Linked DNA regions of Homo sapiens: region 2 is linked to region 1. The links come from fine-mapping of genetic effects on gene expression. A gene starts in region 1. The other region holds a variant in brackets. All regions are shown on one strand. Distances are from middle to middle.

Region 1 (13,354 bases):
ATGTTGAAGCCTTATTCCAACTCCAATATGATGGTATTTATAGGTGGGGCTTTTGGAAGGTAATTATGTTTAGTATGAGGTTATGCAGCTAAACCCCTCATCGTGGGATCAGTGCACTTGTAAGAAGAGGCACCAGAGAGCTTGGTTTCTTTCTCTCTTCCCCTCTCTTTCTCTCTTCCTCTCTGCCTTGTGACGACACAGCGAGAAGGCAGCCATCTGCAAAACAGAGAGTCCTAACTGAGGAAATGCATTGGCTGGGACCCTGATCTTGGACTTCCTAGCCTCCAGAGCTGTGAGAAATGCATATTTATTGTTTAAGCCACCCAGTCTAAGACATCTTGTTATATCAACCAGAGCCAAGAGCACTAAGACAAGCCAAGAACATTGGCTGAAGCCCTTCTCTTAGAAAATGCACGCTTTCGTGTTTCCTTATAGAAAGCATTTGCTCACTGTGACCTGGAGCCAGAATACATGTTACCATGTAGAATATACCACTTCTCAGTCTCTGAGTTCCTTCCCAACACAGCCCCTGGCACTCTTAGCCAGTTCAAATTACTGTGTGCCCAGCAGACCTTAGGGAGACACCAGAGTTTTTCCAAAATGTTTAGAAGGGGAAAAATCAGTAATGACCTGGAGGCAAAGATAGGAGCCTTTTTCTCTACAGGGCTGTGCCAAAAGGATACCACCCAATGTTGCCAATTGGTCTGCAGGGAATTTCTTTAAAAGACTCTGCCTCATAGCTTAATCTATCACACACAGATTTATGGCCTACAACAGCACTTTTCAAACTGAATCACAACACATTAGTGGGATGTGAAATCACATGGGTTCAGCCAAGTTTTTTTAACAAAATAGATGAAATCAAACAGCATATAATAGAAAATATTAAAGTGCATTGCTGGTAATAAGAATAAACACTGTTTTATGAAATTGTTTCTGTTTTATACACACACACACACACACACACACACACACACACACACCCCTTACTATGGAAATCTATTTGGTTCCTAAACAATAATACATATAGCAAGGGATCCTATATAATTAGTTTAATTGAGTTGACAAATAAATGTATTTAAAATTATAAATGTATACACATAATTGTGTTTACATAAATGTGACACATAAATGTATTATTTAAAATTACATTGCAGTGGGGAGGAGTATGCAAAGTGCCTAGCCTAAAGAAACTACAGTAAGTGGAATGGGAACTAAATTTAAAGAAAAAAAAGGTTCCAAAATAGTTTAACACATTCTTCTCTTGTTCTAATTATCTTTCATTTGGTTTGGTTTCCTTGGATTTGTATGTCTGGGAATACATCTGGTTTTCTTATCATCTTTTCTTTCAACATGGAACAACAGTGAGAAACTAAAGGTGAGACAACTGAAAACAGGACATGGGTTTGCATGCACAGACGAAATCTGCACCACCAAGCAGGCTGGGCCATTTCCTGTCATTCCATGTGCCAAACCACTGGGCGGGATCTGGACCAGAGGCAGCTCCCTTCTCCCTCAGAAAAGCCTTTAAAATGCCAGTTTCTCAAATCACTGGGCAAAAGACCAACTGCTCTCGAGGATCTGGAGCCCTGAATAGGATCATGGCCAATTCGTATTTTTAAGTAGAGTTGAATGTGTGTGTGTCATGATTTTTGTAAACTTTTTGAAAAACTCTATGAACAAAACAGTGTCTTCAAATGTGATTTTAGGAAAATTACTTTGCCTGATACTTTTAATTCACCCGTAACCCCTATACTCTATGCCCTCCCTGCCAAAAGAAAGTGAGCACATCTGTCTTGGTCTCAATGGCTCCATGTGGATCAGTGCTGCCAGCACCTGCCTTCGCCAGCACTATCCAGGGGCTTCAGGTGGATATAGCCTTGGGAGTTTAGCTCCCCTTGAGTTCCCAAACACATCCTCAGGGTGTATCGCCCCAGTGGTCACCGTCCAATCTTCTTGCAATCAGGAGTCACTACTTTACAACAGACAACTGTAATGGAGGAGCCAACAAATCACTAATTCTGGTGGAGACTGTCTACTTTCTAGAGCTAACCACAACAGCAACACGTAACACCAGAAGCACTGTTCTCTTAGTATATTAATGACAACTGCATTACTAATGAATTAGAGTCACACTAGCAGGTGGATTTGGTCCAAAGCTGAGAGTAAAGGCTTGAAACTGATGACCTGAGTTCAACTTGATCTCTAGTGTAGGAAGAAAGAAGATTTTAGTCACTCAGCCAATATCTACGATCATCATTCTGTTGCATTCTCTGGCTCTATCGATTCTTAATAATTATATCTAGAATAGTAGTTGATGTTTTAAGTTTATTTACTTAAAAATTTCTGATAATGAAAATGATACTTCTCAAAGTCTCAGCCAGAGTAAGCATGCACCCCACGAATGCTGCCATGTACAGAAAACTTACCTAACAATACGCTTTACTGCTGACAAACAGAGCCTAAGTAAGACATTTTAGCTTTTATTGTTCCTCAATGTAGTTTAACTCTGTGATCTTTTACAGTAATCATAAGACTAGATAATAGAGCGAGAATCTTAGCAATGTATAGACAGAGGGTCTCCAATAGGATGGGCTTAACTTACAATTTTTCGACTTTTATGATGGTGGGAAAGTGATAGCATTCAGTAGAAATCGTACTTCAAATTTTGATCTTTTCCTGAACTATACATGGTAGGATACTCTCTCTGATGCTGGGCACCGGCCATTAGCCACAGCTCCCAGTTAACCACAGGAGGGTAAACAACCGGAACTCTAGAGTGTTCTCTGTTGTCAGTGTTTTTTGAATATTGTGTTTTGTGTTTCATATCTCACCATGTCTACAAAATCCCATCTGTACACGGTATTTAACAGTTATTATAAAATAGGCTTTATGTTAGATGATTTTGCCCAAATGTAGGCTAATATTAAGTGTTCTGAGCATGTTTCAGGTAGGCTAGGCTAAGCTACAACGTTTGTTAGCACAGGTGTAGTAAATGCATTTTCAACTTCTGATATTTTCAACTACAGTGGGCTTATTGGGACATAACACCATCATAAGTTGAGAAGCTTCTGTATAACCGATTAATATTTGTCCTCCAAAATTTACTGCAACACGTAATTCTGAACTGAAAAATAAAAAACCCAAACTTCAAATTTCTCAGTTTTTTCCTATGCAGGCTACCATCTCATAGGGGTATACAATTGGCAGTTTATTTTTTTCCCATTTTTCAAATTAAAGTGAATTTCTTGAGTTTCATGACGATGAAGCTTATTCATAAAGACAACGTGTGTGGATAAGTCAGCCTATTTGAGGCATCTAGGGTTAATGTTACTCTGAAAACAGATGTGCTACTGGGACAGTCCCTGCAGCAGCATCAGGCACTTCCTCTACTACACAGTAGTTTATAAAACACCCAGTAAACAATTTTAAGTAGATCATCCCTTTACTCAGAGGTTTACATGGTTCCACTGTCACGCATCATACAATTAATAACAGGCATGTTTTGGACCTTACAAAAATCGACATCATTGTCCTTTCATTTCCACCTATATATATAATAGATCTTCAGATGAATACTGAAAAACTTGATCAAAAATGGATGTTTATGTATACATTATTCAGTGCTCAAATACTTCAAAACATTTTTAACAGTGACAAATCACTGAATTTTCATTCAGAAGTTTGCCTATTTTACACATCTATATTCAATGAGCCTTCAATAGTACTAGCAAAGTGGGGGGAGAGTGGGCAGTGATCATTACATCTTCCCACTAAATACCAACATCCAGAATCCTGCTCTGGATCCTCCAATGACTTGAAAAAATAAAAAGGCTGTTAGCAATACTATTTCCAGCAAAAAGAGAATGAAAAATGAAATTGCAAAGGAGTAGTAAGTACAGAAGCTGCAACTTGTCAACCGTTGAAATTACATCTTCAGATTCCCTATACTAAAGAGCCTGGATCTAAAATAAGTGTTGAAAATAAATCTCCTTACCTATGGATAACAGAGAGAAAAGACAAAAAAAAAGGAAGTAAGGGAAAGAAAACTATAATTTTCAATGGATACAAATACGAAAGCATATGGAATCATGCAGAAGGCCAAACTGCTACCTGTTTGGATCTTCAGAGGAGGGATAGGGGACATATCTGCAATCCTAGGGAGATGGTCTGTTGCATATATAATTTAAATAAATCACTCCAGCCCATGAAAGAAGGGAAGCAGCAGCATTCTCACTAATTACCACTGCCTGGATCCCATATGCTGCTTTCTCTTTAAAGCCACACTAGTTCATTATTCTGCCTTCAACTCTCTTAAATGATTCATTTCTCCCTTCACTCCTGAGCAGACTCTGCAGGGAAGCTAGTATTTAAGTTTAATTTCTCGTGTCACTTGCTTTGGAGAGCTTGACGAGGGGAAGGAGGAGGAATCTAACTTAATAATTCTGTCTTGATTTGGAGGGGCACCCTCCGGCCCCCACCCTAAACAATAACTAGACAAACAGGACCCTCTGGCAAGCTATAATCGTGAGCAAAGATATCAATTGGGAAAGCAGGGCCCACGTGCGGTGGGAGCTGTCACCCAAGGGAAGTGGCAGCCTGCGAGAAGGAGGGAAGGTGGGAGGGAGTCGGGCTGATCCTACAGCTGCACCGGCCTAGGCGCTCTGGTGGGGTGGGAAGGACTCGAGCCGCACCTGAATGAAGGTTAGCTCTCTCTCAAGACACTAACTAGGTAGGGAGAAATCGAAGGGCACGAAGGCAGGCTCCCGCACCCTCCGAGCCGTCGCTGCGAGAGGGACAACCCCCAGTGCACGCCGCGGGCTTCCCCAGCCGGAGCCCGCGCCTTACCGTCCCAGCTCCGACTCCACCTCGAAGAAATCGCTCAGCGCATCCCTGTTGGAGCCGTCGATCCAGTAATCCGGGACGAGGCTCGCGGTCCCCGGGGCCGCACTGGCGGTGACCGAAGAGCAGGACGAGGCGGAGCAGGAGGGCACCGTGACTTTGAGCATCTTCGCAGCGGGACTCCGGAAGCCGCCGCCGCCGCCGCCGCCGCTGCCCGAGCGAGAAGCCGGCCGCCAGCCGCCGCCTGCGAACGCAGGAGCGAGAGAGAGGCGGCGTCCTTCACGCGCGCACACGCCCACCGCCGCCGCCCGCGCTCGCAGGGACGGTGGGCGGGGAAGGGGGCGAGCCTCTGCGAGAGGGCGCGAGGGGGAACCCGGAGTCGCCGCCCGCTGGAGGGAGACTAGCTGCACCGCTGAGGAGAGAGGCTCCCTCCCCCTCGCTCCTTCCCTCCTCACCCGCCCTCCTCCCGCGCCGAGCCTTTCCCGCCGCCCTCCCTCTTTCCTTTCTCTCTCCCAGGCTGTGGCTGCCGCGGTGCCGGCTAGGGCGGCTCCGGATGCTGGAGCTTGGGGAAGGCACAAGGACCCGCGCATCATCCCACGCGCCCTCCCGCGGGGACCGGAGCTGGAGGGAGACCGTGCGCAGCGGGACGCTGCTCTGGGATGGCGGGCGCCAGGCGTACCCTGGCAGCACCTGGGTCCGGGCGGCCCCGCCGGATAGCGAGAGAGGGACCTAGGTGGTGGTGGCGCAACTCATCCCTCCTTGAGCGCGTCTCCGTGGCGAGTCCCTCCCACCTAACACCAGCTAACCAGCCATCCTCTGTCAAAGCTTATATTGGTGGCCGGGGAGGGAGTACTGTGGTCGCCGATCCCTCAGGGCTCCTGTGCCTGGACCCAGTGAGAGCTGGAGGAAAAGGAAGCGCCCAGGTCCACACTGACCTGACTCACCTTTGAGTGAAGTCTTCAGTTGGAATAAATGCTGTCGTCGCTGCTGGTGGCACTGCCTCCTCGGCACTGCTGGAGCTCCTAAAAGAGGAGATACTTGGCTGTGTCGAGTTCAATCTCAGCATCTGAAGTGGCTCAGAATTACAGTTCTAGAAGGGCCTTGTGGAAGCCAACTAGTAAACCCTCTGCCTTAAGGCAGGACCTGTCCTCATTCATGACAGGGAAGACTGCTACATGTAAAAGCCCTTTTTCTCTTCCCAAGAGATGTATCCCATGATAAGCATTCTTATGTCCTGTCCATCAGCTGTCATGGCTCTTCTTCTCAGTATTAAACATACATCACTTAAACTACCCTTGAACTTTTTTCTTTTCAGATTTCAGCAAAGACGAACAACAATTAGTCATGTTCTGATACATATCTATGACAGTTATTATACCACAACTCATTTCTGGCTAAATAGCTCCAGGCGCTTTCACCTTACTTCACAGGTGTTACTTTTGGCCTTTTTTTTTTCCTGAGTTTCCTCCAACATGCGCTAAACTCTTCCTAGTAAGTCTCCATTCCTGATAGCACCAACCATTAATATGGTCCAATATTTTAATCTAATTTATGGATTTATTATTCTTAAAAGCCTGCCTGCTATACTGGTGAACAAACAACCAAAAATATCCAATCAAGTAGTTACAGGAATGTGATTCCTAGCTGATTGGAAATTGAAAATATATATAGTCATGCATCCCTCAACCACGGTGAGAAGTTGAAGAGATGCATCCTTAGGCGATGCAGTTGTAAGAACATCATAGGGTGTACTTGTACACAACCAGATAGTATAGCTTACTACACAGCTATGCTGGATGGAATAGTCAATTGCTCCTAGGCTTCAAACCTGTACAGCATTTTACTATACTGAATACTACAGGCCAGCGGTCCCCAACCTTTTCGGCACCAGGGACCAGTTTCTTGGAAGATAATTTTTTCCACAGACAGGGGGTGGGGAAGATGGTTCTGGGATGATTCAAGTGCATTACATTTATTGTGCACTTTAATTCTATTATTATTACATTGCAATACATAGTGAAATAATTATACAACTCACCGTAATATAGAATCAGTGGAAGACCTGAGCTTGTTTTCCTACAACTAGACGGTCCTATCTGGGGGTGATGGGAGACAGTGATAGATCATCAGGCAGTAGATTCTTATAAGGAGTGCACAACCTAGATCCCTTGCATGTGCAGTTCACAATAGGGTTCATGCTCTTACGGGAATCTAATGCTACCACTGATCTGACAGGAGGCAGAGTTCAGGCAGTAATGTGGGAGATGGAGAGCCCCTGTAAATATAGATGAAGCTTTGCTTGCTTGCCTGCAGCTCACCTCCTGCTGTGTGGCCCAGTTCCTAACAGGCCACAGACCAGCCCATGGCCTGGGGGTTGGGAACTCTGCTGTAGGCAACTGTAACACAACAATAAGTATTTGTGTATTTAAACATATCTAAACATAGGAAAGGTACAATAAAAATATGGTATAAAAGGTAAAAAATGGTACACCTGTATAGGGCACTTACCATGAATGCAGCTTGCAGGACTAAAAGTTGCTCCGTGTGAGTGAGTAAGTGGTGAGTGGATATGAAGGCCTAGGACATTACACTACTTAGACTTTATACATACTGTATGCTTAGGCTACACTAAATTTATTTAGAATAGTTTCTTTCTTCAATGGTAAATTAACCTTAGTTTACTGTAACTTTTACTTTATAAACTTTTTAATGTTTTAAAACTTTTTGACTCCTTTATAGTAATGCTTAGCTGAAACACAAATACAAGGTATTTTATACAAAATATATTGTAAAGCTGCACAAAAATGTTTTCTATGTATCCTTATTCTATAAGCTTTCTTCTTTTTAAAACAACTTTTTTAACTTTTTGAACTTTGTTAAAAACTAAAACATACACACACACTAGCCTAGGCCTACACAGAGACAGGCATCGATATCATGTCTTCCGCCTCCACATCTTGTCCCACTGAAAGCTGGAAGGGCTTTAGGGGCAATGACATGCATGGAGCTGTCATCTTCTATGATGACAATGCCTTATTCTGGAATACCTCCCGAAGGACCTGCCTGAAGCTGTTTTACAGTTAACTTTTTTTATAGCTAGAGGAGAAAACTCTAAAATAACAATAAAATGTATAGTGTAGTAAATACTATACTAGTATTTACTGGTAACATAGTATAAACTAGTAACATAGTCATTTATTACCATTATAAAGTATAATGTACTATACATAATTGTATACACTATACTTTTATATGACTGGCAGCACAGTAGGTTTGTTTACAGTGGCATCACCATAAACACATGAGTAATGTATTACACTGTAAGATTAGGCTATGATGTCACTAGGTGACAGAAATTTTTCAACTCTATTAGTCTTGTGGGACCACCGTTACACATGCAGCCCATTGTTGACCAAAATGTTGTGTGACACATGACTGTACAAAAACTATTCCTCATGATAATTTTATAATGATGAGCACAAACTCAATGTACAAATGCTCTAACAAATAACAAGTATATGCAAATTCATACAAATTCACTTACATACTAGCTTGTTTGGTGAAAGACTGAAAATGCCCACGTGATGTTACTTTTCAGAGAATAGATTCACTAATCGTGTTGAAAAATCAAGTTCACAAGCAAAGCAAGATAATAAAGCTCTCTAAATTCTAGCTTTGACTCAGTAAGTTTCCCTTGGCTTGCACTGACCAGTGGACAAATGGGCATGAAATAGTTGCTAGGCCATTTTTATTCTCACTTCTTTGAGGCAAGTCCAGCAGCAGCAGCACTGCATGTAAATGCTTGTCTGTTCTTAGCAATTCTTTTACAACATAAGCCCAAAGCAAGCATGTTACATTAAAGGAGATGGTAAGCCTTTTTTCTCCTGCTACTTTAGGTAACAATGGTGCAAGAAAGCCATTTCATGGTACAGAGGTGATTATAGAATTCATTTTATATTCAGCATAATTTTAGTCATTTGACATCTATGCTTTTCATAATTGACTTTTGTAAAAATGCTATTAATTGAAGTTTAAAAACAGGATATTTTGTATAATCCATGCAGCTTACTTTCATTTGAGACATAGATAAAAATTAATAAATATTAAAATAGATGAAACAGGAATTAAATATACAAAATGTACCATTACTTCTTATCAAAACTCAACTGAAATGACCAGAAAAGGAACAGGGTTATCATCCCACAAAAAGAAAGAGAGAAGTGATGTCAACTGAATCTTGAACACGTAAACAAACAGTAACAGAGGAGTTAATAAATCAGAAACCTAGATTTGCAATGGGAAAAGCCAATAAGAAGAAATCTAATCCCTACTATAAAATCAAGACATGTTCAGAAGTTAGAGTACCAGATAGTTCTCAAGGTGAGGCATAGAACAGAGAACAAAACATTGGTTAAAAAATTTTATAAAAAGTTATTAGGCCCCTTCATCCAAATTAGAAAGGAAGAAGTCAAATTGTCCTTGCTTGCAGATGATGTGATCTTATATTTAAAAAAGCCTAAAGACTCCACCAAAAAAAAAAAAAAAAAAAAAACTATTAGAATTGATCAGTCCAGTAAAGTTGCAGGATACAAAATCAACATATGAAAACAGTAGCATTTCTGAAATAGAAAATGAAAAAGTAATCCCATTTACAATAGCTACAAATAAAACAAAATATCTACGGATAAACTTAACCAAAGAAGTGAAAGATGTCTACAATGAAAACCGTAAAACATTCATGAAAGAAATGGAAGAGGACACAAAAAAATGCAAAGATATTTTATGTTTATGGATTGGAAGAAACAATATTTTTAAAATGCCCACACCACCCGAAGCAATCTACACATTCAATGCAATGTCTATCAAAATGCCAATGACATTCTTCACAGAAATAGGAAAAATAATGCTAAAATTTATGTAAAACCACAAAAGAAGCCAAATAGACAAAGCAATCCTGAGGGGAGGCCAGGGCAGGGGGAAGCTGGAGGTGTCATATTACCTGGTTTCAAATTATAATACAAAGGTAAAGTAACCAAAAGAGCATGATACTGGCATCAAAACGAATATATAGGCCAGTAGGACAGAAGAAAGCACCGAGAAATAAATTCATGCATTTACAGTCAAATCATTTTTGAGAAAGGCACCCAGAACATACATTAGGGAAAGGACAGTCTCTTCAATAAATAGTGCTTGGAAAACTGGATGTCCATTTGCAGAAGACTGAATCTAGACCCTCTCTCTCACGATACAAAAATCAAGTCAAAGTGGATTAAATACTTCAATCTAATACCTGAAACTATGAAACTACTAGAAGAGAATATTGGGGAAACACTCCATTTCATAGGTCTGGGAAAGATTTCTTGAGTAAGGTCTCAAAAGAACAGGCAACCAAAGCAAAATGGACAAATTGAATCACATCGAGCTAAAGTTTCTGCACACAGCAAAGGAAACAATCAAAAAAACTGAAGAGACAACCCACAGAATGGGAGAAAATATTTGCGAACTATCCATCTGACAAGGGTTTAATAACCAGAATATATAAGAAACTCAAACAACTCTACAGGAAAAAAAATCAGATTGAAAAATGGGCAAAAGATCTCAACAGACATTTCTCAAAAGAAACATACAAATAGCCAACAACTATATAAAGAAATTTCTATTCATCAAAGAAATGCAAATCAAAACAAGGAAATATCTCACCCCTGTCTTTCTGATAAATGACTTTTATCAGAAAATCACCTTAGAGTGAAACCTACCATTAAACAGGCTCAGTGACCCAAAGCTTCTAATGAGATACAATCTTTCTAATAAATGACTTTTATCAGAAAGACAGGCAATAATGAATGTTGGTGAGAATGTGGAGAAAAGGGAACCCTCGTACACTGTTGGTGGGAATATAAATTAGTACAGTCACTGTGAAGAACAGAATGGAGGTTCCTCAAAACAATAAATAAATTAAAAATAGAACTAACATGTGGTCCACAATCCCACTGCTAAGTATATATCCAAAAGAAAGGAAATCAGTATATCAAAGATACATCTGCACTCTCATATTTATAGCAGCCATGATAAAGAATCAACCTGAGTATCCATCAGTGGATGAATGGATAAAGAAAATGTAGTATGTATACACAAGGAAATATTATTCAGCCATAAAAAGAATGAAATCTTGTCATTTGCAACAACACAGATGAAACTGGAGGACATTAAGTGAAATAAGCCAGGCACAGAAAGACAAATATTGCATGTTCTCACTCATATGTGGAAGCTAAGAAAAATATTGAACTCTTAGAGATAGAGAGTAGAATGATGGCTATCAGAGGACGGGAAGGGTAATAGCAAGGAGGGGATAAATAGGGGATAGTTAATGAGCACAAAAATACAGTTAGATACAGGGAATAAGATCTAATGTTCAGTAGCATAATAGGGCAACTATAGTTAACAGTAACTTATTACATATTTCAATATAACTAAGAGTGGAATTGGAATGTTTCTAACAACAAGGAAGTGATAAATGCTTGAAGGGATGGATATTCCAGTTACCCTGATTTGATCACTGCACACTGTATGTTTGTATAAAAATATCACATGTATCCCATAAATAAGTGCAAATATTATGTATTCATAACAAATTCTTTTTTTAAATTAAAGCTTTTAGGCTTCCTGGATTACCTCTTCTAACAATTCACAGCCAAAAAACACTCCTACCAAAGCCTAGAAGAAGATAATATATTTAATTTTGTAAATGTTGAACAAGGAACGAAATATGTTTTAGGTCAGAAGATACAGCTGAGGCCATATTGAAAAGAGAGATTAAGTGAAACTCTGCACGATAAGTAGCGAGACCCCTGAGGGCACACGCTCCCAGAATGTTGAGAAATAGGTTTATGTCTATTTTGCCCCTAGCCATACAACTATTGGTGGATTTTTCACTGAACAAAATAAATAACCCAAGGAGGGTTATATATATAACACAAAATACTACAAATAATTCCCTCTATATGATATTCAAGGAAAGGCAAAACTGAAGTGACAGAATGCAGATCAGTAGTTCTCCAGGGCTAAAGTGGGAGGGAATCAAATGCAAAAGACTCTAAGGGATTTGGGGAGTGATGGAAAGGTTTTATATCATGGTTATGGTGGTGATTACAGGATTTTATTCATTTGTCAAAACTCTGAATTATACTTTTTAAATTGATAAATTTTATTGTACCTAAGTTACATCTTAATAAAAACAATTAAAATTAAAGGCACAGCCAGTGCTCTAACTTAGGTAAAATTAGAAGTTATTAATATTGGAAAGAAAGAAGTTAAATTGTTGTCATGTACCGATGACTTGACTATTATATAGAAAATTCTAAAAGTTGGTTTAGACTACTACAATTGATCAGTGAATTTGTCAAGGTCACAATATACAAGGTCAATATAAAACAATCACAATATAAAACAAATACTAATAGGAAATGATAGGAAAATTCACTAATACCATTTCATTTACAATAGAATAAAAAGCATAAAATACTTAGGAATCAATTCAACAGAAGATGTCCAAATCATCTACAGTTAAAATTACCAGATATTGCTAAGTGAAATTTTTGCAAATCAAAACTACAAAGAGAAATAATCTCATACCAGTCAGAATGACAATTACTAAAAAGTCAAAAAATAACAGATGCTGGTGAAGCCGCAGAGAAAAGGGAACACTTATACATTGTTAGTGGAAATGCAAATTAGTTCAGCCACTGTAGAAAGCAGTTTGGAGATTTCTCAAAGAACTTAGAACTACCATTTGGCCCAGCAATCCCATTACTGGGTATATACTCAAAGAAAAATAAATCGTTCTGCCAAAAAGACACTTACACTTGTATGTTAATTGCAGCACTATTCATGATAGCAAAGGCAGAATCAACCTAGGTACTCATCAATGGTGAACTGGATAAAGAAAATGTGGTACATATACACCTTGGAATACTACACAGCCATAAAAAATAATAAAATCACGTCCTTTGCAGCAACATGGATGTAGTTGGAGGCCATTATCCTAAGTGAATTAACACAGAAGCAGAAAACCAAATATCACGTGTTCTCACTTATAAGTGGGAGCTAAACACTGAGTAAACATGGACATAAAGGTGGGAACAACAGACACTGGAAACTACTAGAAGAGGGAGGGAGGAAGAGGTGGATGGGATGAAAAACTACCTATTGGGTACTATGCTCACTACCTGCATGATGGTGTCAACCATGCCTCAAACCTCAGCATCACGCAGTATACCCATGTAACAAACCTGCACGTGTACCCTCTGAATGCAAAATAAAAGTTGAAAAAAATCTAAGTGGAGAGATATATCATGCTCATTGACTGGAAGACTCAGTATTATTAACATAACAATTCTCTCCCTAACTGGTATGCAGACTAATCTTAATAGGCTTTGTTTGTAGAAAATGAAAAATGTATGCTAACATGTGTAAAGAAATACAAAACATCTGGGATACCAAAACAGTCCTGAGA
Region 2 (17,062 bases), 260 kb before region 1:
AGTACGTGATTTTTTGGAGTCATGAGACATTTTTCAGAAATTGGAGTCTTGGAAAACTTGAAATTATCTGTCATACTATCATTTACTCTGTTTTGTCAGTGGAGACCTGGCCAATTCAGTTTTTGCTTTCAGTGACTGAGGCTTTGCTTTAACCTGGTGACTCCCAAAAATATCTTCGATGTGTTTGATGATTTTTATTTGGCTTAGAAGCACAGCAGATGAGCCAAGTATGTCAGGCTAGATGCTCTGAGGAAAGGCTGCACATGGACCTACCCAGAGTAAGGAAGGAGTAAGGAAGTCTAATTCAATTTTGCACGAGATGAGATTCTGTTGCACACTGGCAACACTTCCCTGTGTATTTCAGCCTTTCACATTTAGTATTCTTCCTTCACCTCTGCCTTTCATTTTTCCACTCTATGATCAGGCCGGTTCTCAGCCAGACATGCCCCCTACTTCTTCCCTACCTGCAAAGATTCACCCATCTTTCACATACAGCCTGTGTTTCCATAAAGCTTTCCTTCATCATTCCTGGCAAAAGGGAGCTTTTCCCTCTTTCCATTCCTAGGGCTTATCATCTGCCTAAATGCAGCATAGGTTATATATGTACAGGTTGTATCTATAAGGTTGGCTTTTCTCTCCAACTACAAAGCTCACTCCTGGAGGATAGCATTGGATTTAATTCATCTTTGACTCCTCCATGGCATATAATAGTTTCTCAGTGAAAGTTCACAGGGAAAATTGTTCCTGGAGGGGGCTGCTCCTGGGAAGCTTCAAAATTAGAAAATCACTTCCTTACAATGTGATTAGAATGTAGGCCTAATATCCCCTAAACTATGTTGTTTAGTTTCTGGGAGAAACATTAGCTATTGACTTCATTCATTTCTAAAGTATTTGTCCATCAATGATCGTCTTCAAACTGAGCAATCAAGAAGATGGGCAGGGGAGAATGTGGAATCCTAATCTACATTTTGTTATCTTTCCCCTCACTCATTCCAGTAAAGTCTCTGCTACACATAATGATGCGGACTGGCAGAAGATTGATATCTTTTGTTCTGAGTTCTACAGCGAGTGTATCCTAGTGGCTATATTATATTATTGATTGCTGTAATAATAGAGCAATAATATTGCTGTATATTATTTAGAGTTATAATTTTAGGTACTCCTAATAAATTGATATTGCACTTTCTACTAAATATTTCATTTGTGACCTTTTGGTTACAGATGTTGAAAGTCAAACGGAAACACAAAGGTCATGAATGCCTATGTTTTTCTCCATATCTCGGTCACTAGCTTCCCTTAAGGTGGATATTTTGGAATGAACAATTTCTCTGTGACAGAAATAGACTAAGACAAGGGCCCTTCTTGGATTTCTAAATATGTAAGGAAAGCAAACGAAAGCATTTACTCAAGGCCCTCTCTTTTCAAAGAAATAAAATACGTAACACTCAGGAAAGCGTGGGGATTAGAAAATGGCTTTCTTACATAAAAGAGCTGGCTGTTTGCGTATTCCCTGAGCTATTGTTGAGAAAGTCATTGTCATATAATGCCACAAAATAAAACATAATATTTCCTAAAATGATTAATGAAAATTCAATTGATATAAATTACTTCAGAATATTATGAGAGATTCAGAACCATAGGGATCTTCTTATTTCTTAGCTTAGTAAGTAACAGCTGTAGATTGACTTAAATGTGAGCAAATGCCAGTGAAAGATGTCATTTACATAATTTTAAATGTAAGGATCAAATTTCTAAAACATGCTCAAAGTGCTAGAAATCTTTTTAATTCTACTCTCAACCAACTCAATTCATACTCTAAATTTCTTTTCTTCAGGAGTGATGCAATTTTGCGTTTTTAGTTCTGTAGGAAAATTTCACTAAGTTGTATCTATCTCCAGCACAATTATTGTTGTGAGAGCATCTGCAACATAAAACAAAATTTTCCTAACTTTCTCAGAAGCAAATGGGAATACGAACCTTAAGCTAAGGAGAAAAAAAAAAAAACAAACTGGAATATAGGAATCTGTATTCCTGCAAGTCACCAAAAAGGCATTGGGGTGCCATGAAAACCCAGGGTCATTGTTTTACTGTAAGGGTCCAGATACACATTTTAGGCTTTGCAGTCCATATGGTCTCTGTTGAAAGTACTCAACTCTGCCTTGACAACATAAAAGCAGCCACAAACAATATGTACATAAATGAGCATGCCTGTGTTCCAATAAAAATGGGGCTTTGGTAGATTTGCTCTGTGAATCATTGGTTGCTTGAGTTCTGAAAAATTTTTGGAGATTTGAGTTCAGTTCTTGGGGAATTATGTGGAAATTACTCTTTAAAAAAATATGCACATAAGTTTTAATGTGTGTATCTCAAAGACGAGAGATAAAATGAATGACTGACATTCAAGTAAGAGCATAAATAACTAATTTGTTTACTAATAATCTTTTACTGATACCTTTAGTTCATTGGGCATAAGAAATCACCTAAACCCCAACTCAGCTGTACCCACTCACTAAACTCACAAGACATTGAAAAATGTTGAAAGAAACACAGCAACATCTGTTGGACATGGAATGGACTACTATTACTATGTTTAGGCCTAACTCCTTAATAAATGGATATGTTACAACGTTCTTTTGGCTTATAGAGGACTTTTAAAATATTACTGAGACTTAAGGGTGCCGTAAAAAGAAAAACAAAATTACAAATTATGAATATGCTATTTGTTCTCTACGCTGCTGCATATTAACTGTATTGTAGGTATATAAAATAGGTCAGGTTAAAAGGAGGCAGTATGAGATGATAGTTTTCAATTTATGGTCATATATATATATTTTTTTTTGACGGAGTTTCGCTCTTGTTGTCCAGGCTGGAGTGCAGTGGCATGATCTTGGCTCACTGCAACCTCTGCCTCCCGGGTTCAAGAGATTCTCCTGCCTCAGCCTCCTGAGTAGCTGAGATTACAGGAGCGTGCCACCATGCCCAGCTAATTTTTGTATTAGGGGTTTCACCACGTTGGCCAGGCTGGTCTCAAACTCCTGACCTCAGGTGATCTGCCAACCTCGGCCTCCCAAAGTGTTGGGATTACAGGCATGAACTATCACGCCCAGCCTATAGTTATGCTTAACTGTACCTTTACAAAACAGATGAACTGCTCTACATCTATCAAGGAAAGGACAAACCTAGTAACTTTTTATCATTCACAAACTGTCAAAGTTGAGAGAGAGCTCAGGGAAAACAACCGCTTTCAAAAATTAGAATGCAAGGTCTTGTATTTAAGTAGCCTGAAATAATCTTTTAAATGGAAAATAAAGATTAATCAGAGTGAAAATTAAATGTTATTTTGACACAATGAATCACAAGCAACGATTAAATGTATATATTCTGTATCTATATGTTTTCCAGGTCAATCTTCAAAATGAGCTGAAAACAACTGTTTAGAATAGTGTGATTTTGCAGTCTTTGCATTGCTGTTTAGAGTATCAAACAAAATTCTGGGCCACAGATACGCTGCATTTCTCCAGTCTGGGATGCTCCTGTCAGGGCTTTAGAGATGACCATAGGGATGGAACAAAACACTGATCTGGGATAAGGCATAGCAAACCAAGACAAGAAAAGAGTAACCCACTGGTGGAATCTCATTTTTCCATTACTGACCAATGACAATATACCAATATTCAAATTGTATCACTTTCAATCAGAGGATGAGAAGAGGTTTTCTCCCACTTGCCTCATTTGAGCTCAACCAGGTAGATGCCTGGAGTCTTCTCTAGAGCAACATCTGATTCCTTTGAAGGAGTAAGACAGTTCACTTTCTCGGCAAGGCTTCTATTTTGCCCTGGTGGACCTCTGAACCAGACAACAGGGAACAGACTGAGTTCTTGAAGGAAGTTAGTATCACACAACCCAATCGTCTTGAGTACATCACAGAGCATTTATGAAAGTTGGAATTTTAAATAACCAAACAAATTAATCAAGTTTGTTATTGCTCTCCAAGATAAGTATAGACATGGCCAAGCTTTATGAGCTGAGATTATATTATCTGATCTCAGGTAATAGCCACAAGGAGTAATAATGACAAAATTTGCTCTTAATATATTGGTCAAAATATAGAAAGAGGAAATACTGAACTTGGTTACTGTGGGTGGTTTGCTGATATCTCTCCAGTGGTCTCTCTCCTTTTTTTTCTTATTTGCCAAGGAGACAAAAATTCACCCTGAGTGTGTCAGGGGAATAAAAGGACTTTGAAAAATTTTATAGGAAATTATTGGGTACATTTCTGTTTATCATGTGGTTATGAATATTGTAATACCAATAGTGAAATAACATGTACACAATTTTTTTAAATGCAGACACACATAACATCTAACCATTAAACAATGTTCAACCAGTAAATGCTCAACTACTAGCAATGACCCTGATCAGGAACATATCAGTGATGAACATAAGGAAATCAGAATATGGACTAATAGGCAGGAATTACAAGGAAATTACAAATCCTTTTACATAGGTTACTATCTGGAAATTTTGCACCATCTAAAGTAAATCTAGACAACATGACTGAATACTTTGCAATGACAAATAAGTGACATAATGGCACTATGATTAATTGACTCTGCTATGTATATTTGTTAATTATACATTGAGTCAACCATCAAGAAAATGCTAGTGCTGATTCACTTTGTTGACCTTTTTTTAAAAAAATTTGCTTTGCAAAAACAATTCTAAAACAAAATAAATGGCTTACTAAGTTTATCCTTTGCCTTTTCTGGCATTTACTTTTCTTTTTCCAACTTGAAATACAACCAGCTGCTTCTGTGCAATAAAAACTGATTTATGAAACAAAATGGCTCTCTCCAAATCTTCAGCCTGTAGGCAACCCACCATCAGTTACCATGCATGTGAAACAGGACATAGGGATTGCTAAACATTCTGAATTACAAAATATGTTTAAAATACTATGAAATTGAAGTCACAGTAAAAATTGTTCCTTTCTTTTTAAGTCTTCCACTAAAAATGACTATAGAACCTTGAGGATTATTCTAAAATCAGTATGTAAAAAATTTTCAAAAGTCTTTTGTTAAATCCATGTGTAATGGCAGTGTTGATTAAACCCTTCTAAGGAAATCTTAAAAAATGCCAGCTAATGGTCATATTCCCACTTTGAGGATAACTGGCATGATATCACCATCATTACACAATCTTCATCATGCAGATTTGGTATGGTTCATTAGATTTCCAGAAAGACATATTGCCTGTGATACAAGGATGGCATGAAGCTTAATCCAGGCCTCAAAATCAGATTCTATGTGCAGTTCTTCCTGAATGAAGACACATAGTTGGCTGAGAGTAGATTTTGGTAAGCAAGAATGCTATTGGCATCATGGCAGTACTCAGGAGACTCTAGGCTGTAGTCAAGACTCCAGGGCCCATCAGGAATCAGAGGGATTGGTCAGTAGATAATTTAGTAATGCCCGTTCTTTGAAGTCATGTTAGGAATCATTTCTCCTCTGAAGTAAATGAATGGGCAGGAGTGGTCAATAAGCTTTTACTCAGTGTGTAACATTTCTGAAACACTTTCTTTGTGGCCTCCCACCAGCTCCTCAATGTGAAAACTGAGGCCACTTAAATCTAAGCATAGAACTTCAAGTGTCACTTTGCTTAAAATAAAAAGTACTCTAGACTAGTGCTGTCTAATATGGTAGCCACTAGCCACATGTGACTATTGAGCACTTGATGTCCCAAAGGCCTAACATACACTCTTGATTTTGAAAACAGTATAAAAATAAAGAATTCAAAATATCACATTAAATTTTAATATTGACTATATATCGATAGAATAATTTGGATGAATTGGATTAAAAATACTATACTTTCATCTATTTTTCTTAAAATGTGACTAATAGAAAATCTTAAATGACATGTGCTTGCATTATATTTATATAATGCACTTGTTCTGGACAATTAACTTCTACCACGATATTATTCTAATTTTTACCTATTTATGTGTCCTGGGACAAGTGAAATTACAGTTTGAGAAAAAATACTGGATTCCAATTAGACTTTGTTAATGGGGGAAATAATTCAAGACTGTCCTTCATGGTTATAAAAAAAAACCTAGTTTATGCTATGTAGCTGAACTTATCTCAAAATAAAAACCCATAATGTAATGTGATAAGTGTTAGCTCTAAAATGTAAAATGTAATTTATTGTTTGCTGAAATTTGAATTCTTTTGCTTTGTGACTATATTGCCAATTAGGAGTGATGTTATGAAGTATTTTGTGAAATTAAATCTCCATTTGTCTACTATTATTTAGCTAAGTAATCTTTGAGATAGACAATACATTCCATTTTAACAAGCAATATAAACATTGGCTGTTCTTTCAAAAATGTTAACATAATTATCCTAACTTAGGATGTATGTATATGAAATCTTTGAATAATTTGACTGAAATGACCAACATTTTTGAAAGTTTGATTTGTTTCCTACTGAAACAATGAAATTAGTCACTATATAGTCATTATCAGAATCTTATCTTTAACATGAGTCAAAATTTAAAACTCCCATTGATTTTTTTAAAAATGTAGTTTATGGGTTTAAAAAGATAGAGGGAATTATCAACTCGAGTACTCACATGGAGGAATGGTAATATGCACTCATTTAAATGAGTAAATTCTAAAATACACATTGGGCATGGTATTTGCAACGTTGTTTCTATAGTTCTCAGGGCCAAACAATGCAGTCCGCCCTACTCTAGTGTTGAAATAATGTAACAACTGCCCTTGGAACAATATGGGGGTGGGCAGGGAGGAATGATGTGTTCTGATCTTTCAGCTAAGCGCCAAGTGCCACTTTCTAAAAAGACCCCCTTCCCTCTCTTTGCTCTTCCAACACGTGTGTGTGTGTGTGTGTGTGTGTGTGTGTGTGTGTGTGTGTTTCAGTCTCATGGTAAAAAGTACAACAGGAAATTGATCCTCTTAAATGGAAATCTTAATGCTTAACAAAGAAGACATTCTTAAAGGTTAAAAATAGCGAGCCCCTTATAATGGACAACATGGGAATTCTGAGAGGGAATAATTAAATGAGGAAGGAAGGAAAGAGGGAATAAGAAAAGTGCTCTCTACTAGATAGTACAAATAAAACAAAACAAAAAATAATCTTCTGAGCCCAGATGATGTGCTTCTTCAGGGGCTCCATATCAGTGACCTGTCAGATTCTTAAACTATGAAAGATAAGAAGTCCTACCTTGTTTTCTTCCCATGAGAACAGTAGTAGAGAGAGATTTGTGATTGAAAAGAAGAATGTCTACTGAGGTCCAACAGCCTCTACAAACTGGAGCTTTAGTTTCGTTTTCTAATTTAATAGTTTTGAGGGAGAGCCAACATAATTTAAGATCTCTTTTTTAACAAGGATTTTTATGTGATAGTCATTTTTATTGTCTTTATTTGGTCTCTGAAAATAATTATTTTTTAAAATGAATTCTTTTTTAAAATTGAGAAAACCCACCAAAAATGTGACACATAATTAATCTGATAAAATATTCATTTCAACTCAAACTAGAAATAAATTGGAGATAGTGCAATTTCTATAAGGGGAAAGTGTTTCTATGAAAGTCAAAGAGAAATTAAACTTATTCTGGGAAAAATCATAATAAAATATCAGGTCTAATGTTCCAGCTTTTTAAGAGTCTGATTTGAAATCAGTATTTTTCTTTATTTTTGTTTTTGTTTGTTTTTTAAGGTAAATAAATTGCATTGTGCTAAATTTATTGGCAGCCACATTCTCAACACTACATTGTAAAATGTGGGTACTTTCATTCCAAATACGAGAAAAAGACATACTAGCTTTTCATAAATAACTTTAGTTTATAAGTGATATGTGTAGATAACCATCAATTGGATAAAAAAAGAGCTTTGATAAACAATAATGTTTTCTTACTCTATTAAAGTCAATAATGAATAATCTTAAAATGGAATATTATTCCTACTCTATGAAGACATTTTGGCACTAACCTGTGAAATAGAATTTTCTAAATATTTGCAACTTGGTAATTATAGAGTTTATCCATTAAAATGTTCTTATCTGTAAAGTTGTATAAATTCATGAGTAAATACAATTTTATCTGGAAAATGAAAAGGAATCAATCTTATCTTCATCAGTTTAAGTACAGTCTTACCTTCTTTTCTTCCCTGTTTATTACACCCTAAGCTTTGTCTATCAGAAAGTCATCTTATTGGAGAGCAGGTGAAGGAAAGAATGGAACTCAGCGTGAGTTTGTAAATTACTTCCTCCAGGGTTGTAAAATGGCAGAATCTTAGAACATTTTGGTTATTATTAATATAGTGTATATAAATAAGAATAAAATAAAGCATTCTCCACACAGGCTTTAGGGACATATGGCTTCATGGCCTTTAAGGATACTTCAATTTCTTACCATTGCAAGTGGATTTTTTTTTGCACATATGTACAACTATCATCTATAAGCATCTCCTTGTAAACAGTTTGAACACATCAATGATAAAAAGTAAAATGTTGTAAAAGTTATGGGAACATGTCTTTTAGCACTACCTAGTATTAGCTAAGCAGTAGTTCAAAGGAATTACTGCCTTGTGAAGAAATCCAAAGGATGTAGGATGGCTAGATTTTCAAAGCAAAAACAATTTGCTACTATTCACTTCAAATATGTGCCACTGGTTGCTGAAAATGTATGCTTTTAAGTGTTACGTTGTGTTAACTTGCAAGATTTAACTCATCGGTATTAGGTATCCATTACATGCCATAGAAGACACTATTATTTTCATAAAGCAGTCACATGCATTGAAGTTAG[A/T]ATTACCAACTGGTATATATGTATGTTTTTTGCACCTCAAAAACAGAATCACTATAGTACATATCATGCTTCCACACCTTTCTTGCTGAAGGACAAAGTACATAAAATGCCGGTGTTTGGCTTCCAGATCTGAAGGAAGCTGTTTAGTACTCTGGCAGGATCACATCTTGCTGTGGAACTTCAAAACCCACAGCAGAGCTTCCTTGCCCTTCTCTGGGAGCTGCTGCCTCCTCCACAGTCTTCAGCTTCTCCTCTGCTAGGCCCTCCTCTAGTTCCAGGTCAGCCACCTTTATCCCATCCTCCACTGCCTTGGGCACCATTTTGGGGGCCTCTTCAGCATTTATATCTGCACCTTTAACTTTCTCTAAGGCTTGCACCTTCATCAGCTCAGCCTGTGCCCCCTTAACTGCGGCTTGGGCCCCATCGCCTTGAATTTTCTCTCCTTCTGGAATAGCTTTCATGTCCTCGTTGCCATCTTGGATTGGAGAAGGGTCTCGGCTAGCCTTGTGGCTCTCCTGGATGCTGCCATGGCTGCTGCTGGCACTTCCCAGGCGCGAAGAGGCCACCACAGCCTTCACCGCTGCCTGATTGGAAACAGAAGAGTGTCAAGTGTTACCTCTGCTTTAACACCCCACATCAGAGCTCAACCCCAGCTTTGCTTTTAGGGATTCCGTTTTATAGGTTAGCGTTAAAGTTTTCAAAGTACCTTATTCCTAGATTGTTTGCCAAAAGAAAATTTGGAGAATGAACAGTAAAACCTCTTTCATCTCAAATTAAATACAAATTAGTGTATTTAATCATCTGGACAACTGAAAGCCTGAATACATGTGTTTACCTGTGGCTAACCAATTTTTGAAAATTTTAATCTGTGTTTCCCGGTGTATTTGTTTTACGGAACACTAGTTCTGTGGACGTTAGTAGTTTTTACCACATGGATGTCATCATGGGGATATAAGAGTTCCGTGATCAAACTAGCTGGAGAAATCCTAGGTGAAGTCAATACTATTTAATTTGGGGTATTTATAATTAATTTGACCATGGAGCCTTTCAGATTTATTTAGTCTGTATCAGACCGTAAGCAATGGCTGCATAGGACCCTAATTCTGACCCCCAGCTGCTCTCTGAGATCCTCTACTTACATAGCTAGTCCTAAACACAGTTATGTAATAGAAAAGCTCCTAATCTCTATTCGATAGGTACTATATAAAATGATATATTTAGTTAAGTAATTTATTATATCACTTAAATTTTTAAATTTTTGTCAAGTAATTATTTATCTATATTAGGAAATATAGTTTCAAAAATTGTTTACCAAGTTTTACATATTCTGAAAGAAAACAACTTTCTGAATAAATATCAGTTTTCCCTGAACAATGCTGTTTAAGCAGTATACTTTAATTAGATGAGAAGCAGCAATAATATATTTGATATGTAAATATCAACTTATATAACAAATTTCCCTTTATTAATCATATATTCCTTATGAGAGTATAAGAAAACTTAAGTAGCTTTGTGTCAGCCTTATTGGAGTTTCAAAGCAGGATTTTCCCTGGTGCCTTAAGAAATAGATAATAGTATTAGATGAAGAACGGTAGAACTATTATTGATAGATCAAGATGAGATAAATTTTTTGAAAACAAAACAAAACAAAACAAAATATATGCTATCTTACCTTAAGCTTACGCCGGGCATTGAATTCTTGGAGCTTCTTTTGAGCGGTATCCATGTGTACAAAATTGGCTGCTTTACCTGTGACCCACGGATGCTGGAGAGCTTGAAATGTAGTCAGCCGTTTCTTTGGATCCAAAACAATTAATTTTCTGACCTGAAATAATAAAGAACCATAAACTTAGCGAGGTTTTTAGGATGACCTGGGCTTGCCCTCAGCTTACAAACTTCCAGATCTTATTCCATTTCCCAGCAGTACCACTAAATATATGTGAGAAAAAAATTGTTTAAGTCCTCAGGGGCCACTGTAGGTAGGCACAGCTTCAGGTAGCAGTAGCTGAGGGAGTATGAGAAGACAGGGCCATGTACCACCTGAGACCCCCAAAGTGGCAGACGGCTTTCCAACAGAAGTCAAGAAACAGCTCCTCACTTGCCTGTGGACTGGAAGTTCTTTGAAGGCAGAACCAGCAAAATAATTCTGGGCTGCGCTTCACAATCACCTAGAATTCAGAACTTAAAGTACATCTCTATGGTAACAGAATGGAATCATTCATGCATCATCATTCTTTCTGTGGGGATTAAATGGCAAACAAAAGGGAGAGTATCCCAGAACTTATGGAATACTACCTTATGTTTCTATCTTGGGGTTTATAGTTCTTTCTAACCCCTTGAGGGTACTTGAAGGACTAAGCCCAGAGTTTAAAAATCATTTTATAATCCAAGAAGTCAGTGGCTTGAGGGCATGATTTGCCTAAAGAATGGAATCCAATCAATGGCAGCCCATTCTTGGAGGTTTACCCCTGCTTGTGAGGATGGGCAGTCAATAAATTCCCAGGAAGGTCAGCAAATAAAATAATCCACAGTCCTGGGCTTAGTAGGGGTGACCTGATATGAGGCAGAGACTATTGGGAGTCAGGAAGTGTGTTCAAGCCCTGGTTATGCCACTCGCCACTTTTGTGACCCTAGATATAGACAAATATATAAATTGCCTGTGGACACCCCCTCAGGCTCTTTCCTTACAGAATCTTATTTCCACTTTAATTCCTTTGTAATTGCTTCTTAGATGCATATATAACTTTTTAAAAACTCATGTAATCTTTTAGCAGCCTTATCATTTGGAACTACTAGTGCCAATTCATAAATGAGGGAAGCAGGGTAGCTCAGAAAGATTTAGTGACTTGCCTCAGGTCAGACAATTTGGAATTGATGGAGCCTGTATTTAGACTCAGGTCTGTGTATGTCAGAGCGCATCTTGTGGCCACTACAGCATGATGTCTCCAAGGTGGTCAATCTCCCTGTACCTTGGCCTGCTCATGTGCAAAATAAGGAGCTTTGAATGATTGTAGGTCTCAGGTCTTTTCTAACTCTAATTACCTAAGGAGACGTGAACATAGGCTAAGGAAATCAGGCGGCAAGTCAAATGAGGAATAAATACTATCTGGTTCTCTCTTCACTTCCTTTCTGCAAAAGAATGTGTGTTTGGGCTAGATTTGTAGTGGGCAGAGACATGAGGCTCTTTAGGCTTAAAATCTGAGAGGACATGGAGGAAGGTAGGATGGTTAAGAGAAAGAAGGCATGGTAGTAAATAAAAATCTGATAGTAGTCATGGCTATTATCCGTTGAACAGGACTACTAATAATTTTATGTAAATGAGCCCTAATCCTTACAACATTTTTGACAATTAGGTATTTTCTTTTTCTTTTCCAATCATTTTTCTCCTCTCCCTCCTCATTACTATCTTCCTCACAAAAATACAAAGAATTTATTGAAAGTCAATGTGCACCAAAAATTTATATACACCATTGTTAATCTTTACATTTGAAGATATTGATAACAATCCTAACTGAATTATTAGGAAACTTTCTGAAGGTTATAATCACACTCAAAGCCTTGCCATTACCCTGCAGTACCCCTTACATCCAATTCCCCAACTCCTTAGCACTTAGTCTCTGCCGATGACACAACAGATGTGGGTTTTGCTAGTAAGTATACATTTATGGAGCTCAAGGATTCTTCCAGTTCTGAAGTTTTAAGCAGTGATAAACTAACAAGGGATCTAGCTGAATGAAGGAACATCAAAGCTAACCCTCTTATTCACTTAATATTTATTAAGGGTGAAAAGAAATGGAAGGAGGGCTAAATAAGATTACTATTATTAAGTTAGTTGATATTAGTTACTTAACATATATTATGTTCCTTAATTCTCACAACGACCTAGAGATAGGTACAATTATCATCCTAGATGAGAAAACTAAAGCATAGCAAGGTTAGATCATGAGCCTGAGGTTACACTTCCAGGACATGACAAAGGGGGCACTTAAATCCAGGTGTGTCAGACTCTGAAACTTCACGGTGTACTTCCAGATCCATTGTTTCATCCAATAAACATTTACTGAGTCAGTCCTATATGCCTATGTGGTTCTAAGGTCTGGGTACACACGCTTTGTCCTGCCCCAGAGCTTAAAATCTAATTAAGGAGGACCATTAAATATATAAGTGATGACTGTTATGAACTGGGGAGTGCAGGGGGTAAAGGAAGATTTTGGCAGAAGGAACCAACTATAGGTGGGAGGGACTGAAGGGGAAGGCCGACCATGCCTCCCAAGGGATATCTAGTGGCAGCTGGGGCTTGAGAATAAGAGTTACCCAGGGGTGTGTGTGTGTGTGTGTGTGTGTGTGTGTGTGTGTGTGTTTACATGCCTATGTGTAATGGAGAAGAAGGTGGGGAGGAAGAAAGAACATTACAGAGCAGAAGAGCCATGGCAATATCCTGAGCTATGCTGATGAGAAACTAGAAGTGTGGTGCACTAGAGTGAAAAGTGATCAAAGGGGAGAGATGTGAAGTGAGTGATGGCACAGGAGAGAGTGGCAGGCCCCAGACCAGGCAGCGTCATGTAGATCTTGTTATGGGTTTTGGATTTTATCCTAAGATTCTTAAAGCAGGACAAGGACATGATGCGATTTATTTATAAGACCATCCCTCTGGATCCTGTACAGACTGTATTTGAGAAAGGCATGAGAAGAGGCAGGGAGGTCAGATAGGAGGTTGGGGCAGTGGTCCGGGGGAGAGAACTGGATGGATTCAAGAGGTGTTTAGGAGCATGGGGTATGACTTGAGGAAGGAGTTGCAATGACATATTTATACATCACACATCACACACACTGACTTTCTCTTCCCACTCATGCTGGAAAAGCCATGAGCCTTAGGGAATCTGTTCCATGAAGGAACACAGAGGGTAAGGAAGAAATGCTTGAAGAAAAAAGAGCACAGGAAAGGGAGTCTGGACGACTGGATCAGCCCTAATAATGTCTTTCTGCTGGGAAGCTGTGTGACCTTAGCAGTCATTTCACCTCTCTGGTCTTTAGCATTCTCATCTTTAAAATGAGAGGAGGACTAGATGCCTCCTAAGACCTCTTCTATATCTAACCTTCTATGATTCAAAAGTCAGCTTTTGATTATGTCTGTGTGGTTGTTCTCTAGTGGATTGATGAGAAATGTTTCAATCTCATGTTAGCATCCTCTTTATTTTATAAGAGGTGAGTGACCTCCCCAGAAGGTATGGATTTCCTGAATGCAAACAAATGTCAATATTAACTTAAGTGAGAAGCAATGTAAAAACAAACAAACAAAATGAACTATTAACACAGTGGAACATTTTTATAATGCCAATGATGCATAATGGGACTTACGTTACTATTAGGATATTTTAATAAATTTGATGAAATTTCAGGAAGCAGTATTGTTTTACTTGAAGTATATCTAGGCTGGGTGCAGTGGCTCACATCTGTAATCCCAGCACTTTGGGAGGCCACAGTGGGAGGATCGCCTGAGGGCAGGAGTTTGAGACCAGCCTGGGCAACATAGCAAGACCCCATATTTCCAAAAAACTTTTAAAAATTAGCTGGGTGTGGTGGCATGCACCTGTGTCCCAGCTACTCAGGAGATGGAGGTGGGAGGATTGCTTAAGCCCAGGAGTTGGAGGCTACAATGAGCCATGATCATGCCATTACACTCCAGCCTGGGTGACAGTGAGACCTTGTCTCAAAAACAAAGAAACAAAAAAGAAATGAAGTACATCTAAATTCTAGGCAATTGCAAGCCATGTTAAAACAGAATTCTGTGTAAATTGTGTTTGAATTCACCCAGCACAGCTTTCTTCATAAGCAAGGTTTTTATACTTATAAGGTAGTAAAAGCTCATTAATACTGTAGTAATTGTAGTTTATGATAATTCAACTAGTGATGAGTCAAAAACATATCTAGTTTTTATTCTCTAAGGAAAATGTATTAATGAACTAATTTTATTAAAATACTTTAAAATTGAAAGAAAATATGGCATTAATATGGGTAAAATTTTAAAAAATTGTACTTCCCATTAATTAGTTAAAAATAAATTTATTTCATTTTGTTTCATTTTGTTTTGGTTACACTTACCAAGTCCTTGGCATTTAGAGATACTTCATCCCACCAGGGGGAGATAAAGTAATATTCACAATTCAGAATTCTCCTGAACATGAACTGATCGCCTCTTTCATCATAGAATGGTTCAAATCCACAAAGTCTAGAGGAATAAAATATAGAGAATAAAATGTCTTTAAAAGCTCAAGTATATTTCATCCAATTTCTGTAGGAATTCAGGACTGTTCTTTTTCACTGCTTCCTGCCATGGAAGCAAGTCTACTCAGCTTAAGTATGCAACTGCCTTATTACAATTCACTATTTATAGTGTAAACACACAATCAAGTCCTCAGGAAGTAGGAATTAATATAAAACCAACTTAGGATTTCTACAAAAAGCTATAATAATAATTATAATTATTGTGTAATAATAATTATTATTATAATTCTTATTACACAGAAGAACAATAATAATAATAGCTAACATTATAGACATTATGCTAAAGCCTTTCCATGGATTTTTTGACAGGTATTGAGAAGACAGACAGACAGGCAGACAGAGATTGAATAGACTTCCAATTTAGTGTGAAAGGGAAGAGCTGGGATTTTGAGAGTAAAGAAATTAAAAAGTGGAAATTAGAAATTTTCACTTATTTTTATTCTGCCCTATTCTATGAAATCCTCCATAGAAATGAGTAAAGCTTTATGACATTTCCATTCCATTCCAGTTTGGATTTCAGAGTGAACAAAGACAGAAGCTGAAACTATTGTCAGGCAATGACCTTAAAAAATGTATAAGATTAATATAGTCACCAGATGCAGCCAAAGAGATGAGCACCCTCAATTTACCTCATTCTTTGTATCATTTTCTACTATGGAGTCAACTTAAAAATGAATGGGAAAAGTGGGATAAAAGGGACGGAGAACTATCTTGGGCATCTTAACAAGAGAGAAAGGAAAAGCGAGTTGTTTGTGACCACCAAGCATCCACTGTTTACAGACGGGTGGAAGTTCTAAAATCAGTAGGGACCAAGAGGGAACTGCTTAAAAAAGCCCATGGCAGGGCATGTGTTGCATGTGTTCCATTTGAAAAAAAATGAGGGTGGGAGGGAGGATGAATAAAAGACATTTTCCCAAAGGCTTCACTCAAGCTGGCCAGGTTGGTACATAGCATGAAAAATTAAAGTGCATCCTAATACAGTGAGTTTTTAGAAAGAAGCAGTTTCGTATGTCCTTTTACTCACAGAATGTCCCACTGGGAGAATGTTTGTCTCTTCCAGATATTCTGGAGCCAGTGAGAAAAATGCAAGGCCTGACAGTGCAGACCCCTGGGCCAATGTGTTCTCCCTTTCCCTACTGAGCAGTCTGCACAGAGAATCCCGCTCCTGACCCACCTGTGGAAGAGCAGCCTAAGGTGAGACAGGGCACATGTCCTCACCCTGACAACGAGAGAGTCTGACCTTGCCTGCCCTGCCCTGCTCTCCACAACACTAGAAACCTATGGCCTGTTGCAGTTAGTCATGGAGAAATGAGCCAGCTTCCTAGACTTAGTTTAGGAGTTTCCTTATATTTCCCCTTCTGAAAATCTAGAGACAAAAATGACCACTGAAGAGTTATAGTGCTCAAATGCCTTTTCTCTCATTTCATTCCTATCAGTGACTTTTTGCTTTGGTGACAGAGGTAAAAGGTGACAACTTCAAGCCTTAGGGCAGAACTGTAGTGTTGAAAGCTGAAGGAGAGAGTTTGAATCTCTGATGTTATCTGATTTCTGATCAGATCATAAGGCCCAGTCCTGCAGCTTTTGTCTGTAGGGGAAGAGGGTTTAGGTATAAAAGGTAAAGATATGAGAATTCCTGGGAGGAAAAATAGAATGGCCTTCATTTTCAGCCTAATGGCATTCTTAGAAATAGCAAGGCCCCATCAATAGCCTGGTGGTGACAAGCTAGAACTCTTAAGAAGGAAAGAGTGGGCCATGCGCGGTGGGTCACACCTGTAATCCCAGCACTTTGGGAGGCTGAGGCAGGTGGAACAGGAGGTCAGGAGTTTGAGACCAGGCTGGCCAGCATGGTGAAACCCCATCTCTACTAAAAATACAAAAAATTAGCTGGGCATGGTGGCACGTGCTTGTAATCCCAGGTACTCGGGGGGCTGGAGCAGAAGAATTGCTTGAA

What was found. PIP is the estimated chance that this variant, and not a neighbour inherited with it, causes the effect.
Region 2: its variant is fine-mapped to the expression of CAMK4 in whole blood (INTERVAL, PIP above 0.99).

Annotation. Positions count from the first base shown.
Region 1 is chr5:111,216,139-111,229,492 of GRCh38, reverse strand. It overlaps CAMK4 (calcium/calmodulin dependent protein kinase IV), which reads right to left and starts at 5,109. Exons shown (of 11, transcript NM_001744.6): 1 at 4,849-5,109. The coding sequence starts at 5,009. RefSeq lists enhancers at 4,871-4,920, 5,881-5,980 and a silencer at 5,031-5,520.
Region 2 is chr5:111,476,374-111,493,435 of GRCh38, reverse strand. CAMK4 (calcium/calmodulin dependent protein kinase IV) reads right to left here. Exons shown (of 11, transcript NM_001744.6): 9 at 14,929-15,055; 10 at 10,499-10,651; 11 at 1-9,410. The coding sequence ends at 8,970. Among named protein-coding and RNA genes, the nearest start is that of STARD4-AS1, 27 kb to the left of the region's middle. The variant A/T (reference allele first, on the strand shown) is at 8,827.